2 linked regions of the Homo sapiens genome follow. The protein of the gene in region 2 interacts with the protein of the main gene of each other region in a pairwise test. Each region holds a gene or a part of one and is shown on either strand. Other genes may lie near its edges.

Evidence for each region.
Region 1: the proteins of PLSCR4 (region 2) and ABHD17A interact in a two-hybrid assay, tested with the Homo sapiens proteins (one large-scale study listed by BioGRID).

Annotation. Positions count from the first base shown.
Region 1 is NC_000019.10:1,879,159-1,882,567, forward strand, and holds part of ABHD17A (alpha/beta hydrolase domain-containing protein 17A), read right to left. Parts: intron 3,409-3,409; exon of another isoform or gene 2,647-3,408; 5' UTR 2,409-2,646; coding exon 2,077-2,408; intron 1,891-2,076; coding exon of another isoform or gene 1,738-1,890; intron 958-1,737; coding exon 763-957; intron 701-762; exon of another isoform or gene 1-700. UniProt on the Homo sapiens protein: Hydrolyzes fatty acids from S-acylated cysteine residues in proteins. Has depalmitoylating activity towards NRAS. Has depalmitoylating activity towards DLG4/PSD95. May have depalmitoylating activity towards MAP6.
Region 2 is NC_000003.12:146,206,013-146,209,828, reverse strand, and holds part of PLSCR4 (phospholipid scramblase 4), read left to right. Parts: intron 1-3,067; coding exon 3,068-3,303; intron 3,304-3,816. UniProt on the Homo sapiens protein: Catalyzes metal ion-induced ATP-independent rapid bidirectional and non-specific movement of phospholipids (lipid scrambling or lipid flip-flop) between the inner and outer leaflet of the plasma membrane and participates in the redistribution of phospholipids between membrane leaflets.

The sequences.
Region 1 (3,409 bases), on a different chromosome or scaffold from region 2:
CTAGGGCCTCTGACTTCTCAGAGCTGTGCCTGGTCCCTGTGGGAGCAGGTCAGACCAGTGGGCTGGGCAGGGCCAGGACGAGACAGGCCCAGTGGATGGTGAGCAGGAAAAGCCACCAGAGGCCCACCCGGGTCTCCTCGTCCAAAGCAGCACTGGCCCGGGCGGTGCTCAAACACCGGTGAAGGGCCCAGGCAAGCGCAGGGCTGGGGACGTGGATGACTAGGAGGGCTGGATCTGGAATCGAGGCTGGCCCAGACCTCGGATGTGTGCTGCGGGTCTGCACCTTACCCTGTAGGCCCTGCCCCAGGATGGCCAAGCTCCGCAGCCACAGGGCCTCATGGGCCAGTCCTCCGGACCTGGATGCAGCAGCCTCGCCTCACTTGGCCCCAAGTGCTGCCTCGGCCGATGGGCTCCCAGCCACACGTGCACAGACCCCCAGACCACCACCCACTCCCTCCCGCCGGGTGGCATCCACACCCCTGTGACAAGCTCAGCCCCTTCCCATCCTCAGGCCAGGGGTTCCCAGGGAACCTGGCTCCACAGGCCAGGGTGTGGGAGGACCGCCTGGCCACACCTCAGCCATGTGGAGGCGGCACCTGCACACCCAAGCTCGCCTGTCCGGCTCTCTGGCCCTGTGCATCCACTGTGGCTCCCCTCCTGCAGGGCCGCCCACCTTCCTCCCAGGGAAGCCCGCCCCCCGGCCCCCCGCCTGGTCCCCTCTTGGGTGTGCCCAGGCTGAGCTGCCCCCAGGGTCGCCCTCACCTGGTGCGCAGGGCCTGCCAGGCGGCGTCGATGTCGGCATAGAGGTTCCTCTCGGAAGGCCTGCCCGAGCTGGCACCGTAGCCGGAGTAGTCGTAGGAGAAGATGTTGCAGTGGAGGCGGGAGCCCAGGCCAATGTAGAAGCTGCTCATCTGGCCCAGGTCCACGGCATTGCCGTGCGAGAAGAGGACCGTGTACCTGGGACAGGCCGAGAAGGGCCGTTCACATCCTCGCTCCCAGCGCCCAGCTGCAGGGCAGGAGGATGCGTAGTGACAGCCCACCCCGGTGGCCAGCCATGCCCAGTGCCTCATTTACTCCCCTCCCAAGGGGGCCAGAAGCCAGTGAATGGAGAGGGGAGGCTACGACAGCACAGCTCCATCTCCGAGGGTTCCCCATGGGGAGAGGACAGGACAGCTGGCAGGGGGACAGGCAGCCTGGGCTGCAGAGGCCAGCCAGGGAGCCTCAGGATTCCCATCTGTGAAGCGGGACACTGGGACCATCGGTCGCATCCTCTCTCAGGGCAGACTCGCAGTGTGTGCTCAGATACTGCAGGCTTCACTGCCCTTCCTCCTGGAAGAACCTGGACCCCCGGGGATGGAGCGCACAGGCCCACCTTTCAGGACCTTCCCAGGGGAGCCCATGCTGCTGCTGGCAGGGCTATCTCCCCTCACCTCACAGAATGGTGCCCTCACTGTTGGGGCACAACTGGACCCCACCCCTGCCCCCAACAAGCAAATGCGGCCAATCTCTGCTCACACTCATGCAGCCCCTCCTGGCCCACCACCCTGCCCAAGCCCCAAGGCTGTGCTGCAAGGCCTGTCTGCTTCCCAGCACGGGAGCTGCCCCAGGTGGTGCCAGGAGCAGGTGGCCAGGCTGGCCCTGCCATGGACTGCTTCCTCCAGTTCCCCCAGGCCCCCACCTAGCCCAGCCAGAAGGTAAAGGCTCGCCCTCTGGACTCAGATCTGGTCAGAACCCCACCTGGCGAGAAGGTGGATGTACCCGCAGGCCAGGGCAGCCCCTGTGCCCCAGCTCTTGCCCAGCAGGCAACCACCAGGCGCTGGGTTGTTGGAGTCGCCCAGCCTGCCCACCCATGCCAGCTGGGGATGGCCTCCCTGAGCCTGGTGTCCTTGTCTGCGAGAGAAAATTGCCAGAGGGACGAGGCCGGCCTGACGGGGGATACCACCCTTGCTGGCTGGATGGCCCTTCACGGCAGGCTCGGGCCCTCGGGGGCACCACCAACCACACCAAGCACCGCAGGCAGAAACGGGAGCCCCAAGAACAGGGTGACCCAGCCCAGGCGCGGCCACAGCTGCTCACCTGGCACCAGGCACGCAGCGAACATACATGCAGGAGACGCGGTTGCCGCGGGCGCTCTTGGTGGGGAAGACCTCGATGGTGTCCAGCTCGCGCTGGCTGTACTGGAAGTCGGCACGCTCCGTCAGGTGCAGCTTCCAGCGCCCGGGTGCGCCCGAGGAGGCTCTCAGGGTCCCCAAGGGGGCGGCCCCGGCCCCACCAGGCCCCGGCTCGGGCTCAGGCACCAGGGAGTAGGTGGCCTCCGGCGGCAGGAAGGCGAGCTTGGCAGCGATGCGGCCGGGGCAGGGCGGGCAGCAGAAGAGGCAGCAGAGCTCACTCAGCGACAGCCCATTCATGGCGGGCGCCGCCCAGGCCGGGCCTCCACCGGGGCCCCCGCCAACAACGCCGCCCGGCCTGGCCCGGCAGGGGAGGGGTGGGGGTGCTCCGAGTCGCGGGCAGGGGGGAGAGCGCCCCCCCAGCTACCGCCCCAGACAGCAGCCCCGTTAGGAGGCCAGGGCCCAGCCCCATCGCGGTCCAAGCCGAGCCCCAGGGAGCCTCGCAACCACAGGTCTCCATGTCGTGCCGTGGGAAGCCCTGCGGGGGAACAGTGACATGTGGGGTCCTTTGGGGGTGCCACAGTCCAGCTGGGCACCCCCGGGAGGCGGGGCATCCACCCGTGCCAGGGGGCGGCATGGGCCCGGGGCCTGTCAGTCCCCATCCCCTCGGCCCTCCCCACGGCCTGTCAGGCACTGCACCCTACAGCTCAGGGGACCCCAATTCAGCCCCCTCTCCACAGGATGAAGGAACCCCCACCTTCCCTGAGCTGGCGATCACCACCTCTTGCCATGTGAGTACAGCCATGGCATGCGGGGCATGCAGGGGATATGACCCCAGCCCCGCCCACACCCCCGAAACGCCCGGCTCCAGCACCAGGGAAACCCCATGCGCCAGGACTCGGTCCGCACTGCTGCCCACTCCCTCCCCCGGCCCATCTCTGCCACCCTATGGGTGACGGGCCGCTGAGGCAAGGACAGAGCTCGAACTGAAGGGACCCACGAGGGACCCGAACAGGCCCCGCTACGTGAGCGTGCACAGGCGCCGGGTCCCACCGGCCTGCGATGTCTGGAGACAGAGGAAATACAACAAACAAAGGCTCTAGAAACAAAGGCAGGATACATCCCAGGCTCCTAGGGCCCCCAGAGCAGCAACAATGGCTCTTCTCTGTGCTGGAGCCAGGCCTGCTGAGGGGCAGGGGAGGTGGGCTGGCGTCAGGGGGTCCTTCTCCACCCCTGACTTAGGGTTCCGTGACCGTGGGCGAGTCCCTTGCCCTCCTGAGGCCTCAGCATTCTCATCTATA
Region 2 (3,816 bases):
AACATCACTTGTGGGCTGCTTGTGGCTCTACTACTCACAGGATTTCAGTTAGAGCTACAAGACCTTAGCAATAAGTTAGGGTCTGTTGCATATTTCTGGGTAGACAACCAAGACCCAGTTATTTATAAATTTTAATTAATTAATCTTAAAAACTTGGAAAGTGAAACAAAAATAAATTAGTAATGATCAAAGTTATTCAAAAAATTCCTGGTAACCAGACCTAGATAGATATGCAGTAATGGCATTCTCATACTTATTGTTGGCAATTCTTTGACTTTAAAAAAACATAGTGAAATGCAAAGTTACCACTGCTTATCTTAAGAGACCTTGATAAAAAAATTCCTAAAGTCAAACATTAGCTGTTGTGTGCTTATTCATTTTTATGAGTACTCTTTTTAAAAAATATTTTATTTCCATAGGATTTTGGGGAACAGGTGGTATTTGGTTATATGAGTAAGTTCTTTAGTGGTGATATTTTGTGAGATTCTAGTGCACCCACCACCCAAGCAGTATACACTGAACCCAATTTGTAGCCTTTTATCCCTCACCCCCTTCCCATCATTACCCCTGAGCCCCCAAAGTCCATTCCATTGTATCATTTCTATGCCTTTGCATCCTCATAGCTTAGCTCCCACTTACGTGTGAGAACATACAATATTTGGTTTTCCATTCCTGAATTACTTTCCTTAGAATAATAGTCTCCAATCGCATCCAGGTTGCTGTGAATGCCATTAATTCATTCCTTTTTATGGCTGAGTAGTATTCCATCATATATATATGTAATCCCACATTTTTCTTTATCCACTCGTAGATTGATGGGCATTTGGGCTAGTTCCGTATTATAGCAGTGAATTGCGCTGCTATAAACATGCATATGCAAGTATCTTTTTTTGACTTCTTTTCCCCTGGATAAATACCCCAGTAGTGGGATTGCTGGATCAAATGGTAGTTCTACTTTTAGTTCTTTAAGGAATCTCCACACTGTTTTCCATAGTGGCTATACTAGTTTACATTCCCACCAGCAGTGTAGAAGTGTTCCCTGTTCTCCGTACATGTCAACATCTGTTATTTTTTGAGTTTTTGATTATGGCCATTCTTGCAGGAATAAGGGGTTATTACATTGTGGTTTTGATTTACATTTCCCTGATCATTAGTGATGCTGAGTATTTTTTCATACAATTGTTGGCCATTTGTGTATCTTCTTTTGAGAATTGTCTATTCATGTCCTTATCCCACTTTTTGATGGGATTGTTTGTATTTTCTTGCTAATTTGTTTGAGTTCGTTACAGATTCTGGATATTAGTCCTTTGTCAGATGTATAGATTGTGTTTGGGTTGTCTGTTTACTCTGCTGACTGTTGTTTTTGCTGTGCAAAAGCTCTTTAGTTTAATTAAGTCCCACCTACTTATCATTGCTTTTGTTGCATTTGCTTTTGGGTTTTTGGTCATGAAGTCTTTGCCTAAGCCAATATCTAGAAGGGTTTTTCTGATATTATCTTCTAGAATTTTTATAGTTTCAGGTCTTAGATTTAAGTGCTTGATCCATCTTGCGTTGATTTTTATATAAGGTGAGAGATGAGCATCCAGTTTCATTCTCATACATGTGGCTAGCCAATTATCCCAGTACCATTTGTTGAATAGGGTGTCCTTTCCCCACTTTGTGTTTTGTTTGCTTTGTCAAAGATCAGTTGGCTGTATTTGGGTTTATTTTTGGGTTCCCTATTCTGTTCCATTGGTCTATGTGCCTATTTTTATACCAGTACCATCTTGTTTTGGTGACTATGTCCTTATAGTATCATTTGAAATCAAGTAATGTGATGCCTCCAGATTTGTTCTTTTCACTTACTTAGTTTTGCTTTGGCTATGCAGGCTCTTTTTTGGTTGCATATGAATTTTAGGATTGTTTTTTCTAGTTCTGTGAAGAACGGTGATAGTATTTTGATGGGAATTGCATTGAATATGTAGACTGTGCTCTTAAAGCATGATAAAATCTTGTATCCATTTAAGGAAATCTAGGTTCCTTGATGGACTTATAATGACAAAGATAATTCATCAGATCTCTGATTGAAGGTGGAATGGGGAGAAATGATAGAGGGATAAGTGCTGTGGGCTGAATGTTTATATCCCTCCCAAATTCACATATTGAAGTCCCATTTCCCAATGTGATGTTACTTGGAAGTGGGGCCTTTCAGAGAAAATTAAATCAAAAGAGTGGAGCCCTCATGATGGCACTCATACCCTATAAGAGGAGACATGAGAGGGATTCTGTCTTTCTGTCTCTCTCTCTCCCCCTTCACTCTGTGAGCATATAGCAAGAAGGTGAACATCTGCAAACCAGGAAAGGCTCTCACCAGGTTTGACCATGCTAACATTTATCTTTGAACTTCCCAGCCTCCAGAACTATAAGAAAGAAATGCTTGTTGTTTAAGCCACTCAGTTTGTGCTTATTTTGTTATAGCAGCATAACTACTAAGAAAATAACTTTAAGAAATTGAATCTAAAAGAGGTCAGGATTGGGGACCAGTCTGAGAACTCGATGATGAAGATATGTACAAGCGATTGGGTCAAGGCAACCTAAAATATTCATTAAAAGCACTCCTTTGAAATGAAGTAGACATTATTTATGTAACCACAAACAATAACAATAGACATAATAACAAAAATTTGCAGGAGTAATTATATGTTAGTAATTATACGTTAGTAATTAATACGTTAGTAATTAATCCCACTACAACCTCATTAGGTAAGTTTATTATCTCCAAGGAGGAACCTAATTTATTAAGAAGCTAACATGTTTCTTCTAATGTTTCAAAACTTATTTTTGTACCATTGAAATGGGAATAATTATCTTATAAGCTTTAAGAGGATTAAATGAATTAATATGTAAATAAGTCTCCCTAATACATCGTTGGGTCATATGCAACCATGATCTGCATAAAGTGTGAATCAAAAATGGAACAAGTTGTTATATTTAAGTGGATGTCGTGTGATCTATTTCATCGCATGTAAAAAGTTATGCTAACTTTAGTGTTAATAATATATAACACTTTGATTTCTTTTGAACACAGGACCCCCTGGAACAGCTGTCCCTCCACCTACTGGCTACCCAGGAGGCTTGCCTATGGGATACTACAGTCCACAGCAACCCAGTACCTTCCCTTTGTACCAGCCAGTTGGTGGTATCCATCCTGTCCGGTATCAGCCTGGCAAATATCCTATGCCAAATCAGTCTGTTCCAATAACATGGATGCCAGGGCCAACTCCTATGGCAAACTGCCCTCCTGGTCTGGAATACTTAGTTCAGGTACTCCATGAAAATACAAATTATTTTCTTATGAAATGTGACCATAGGGATCCAACAAAGAGAGAAAAAAAGCAGACCAGAGTGAATAAAGGAGATGGGTCAGTGATGACAGATGCCATTTGTGAAACTATAAGAACAGTGATACCAGTTTCAGAAATATGAAGGGGAAACAGCAAGTACAAGGATGTTTATAGTGGGATGAGTATGTTTTTCATAAGGATTTATGTTGAACTTCAAGGCATTCAAGATGTTTTCTTGAAAGAATTGTACAAATGGAAATAGAAAAACTATCATAGAGGATAGTTGTGTTATTTGCTTAGAAGTAAACAGTTAACATCAAAAAAAGCACAAAAGAGAACAAAACACAATACAGTGGGTAAATTACTGAGTGCCTTAGCCCATTGCTTTTTACCACCACCCATCATTTTCATTAGCTACTCTTGTCACCCCCAAAAACAAACAATATAAATAAAAATAATGGACCCTACAAAGAATATTGCTTCAGGCCAAGTT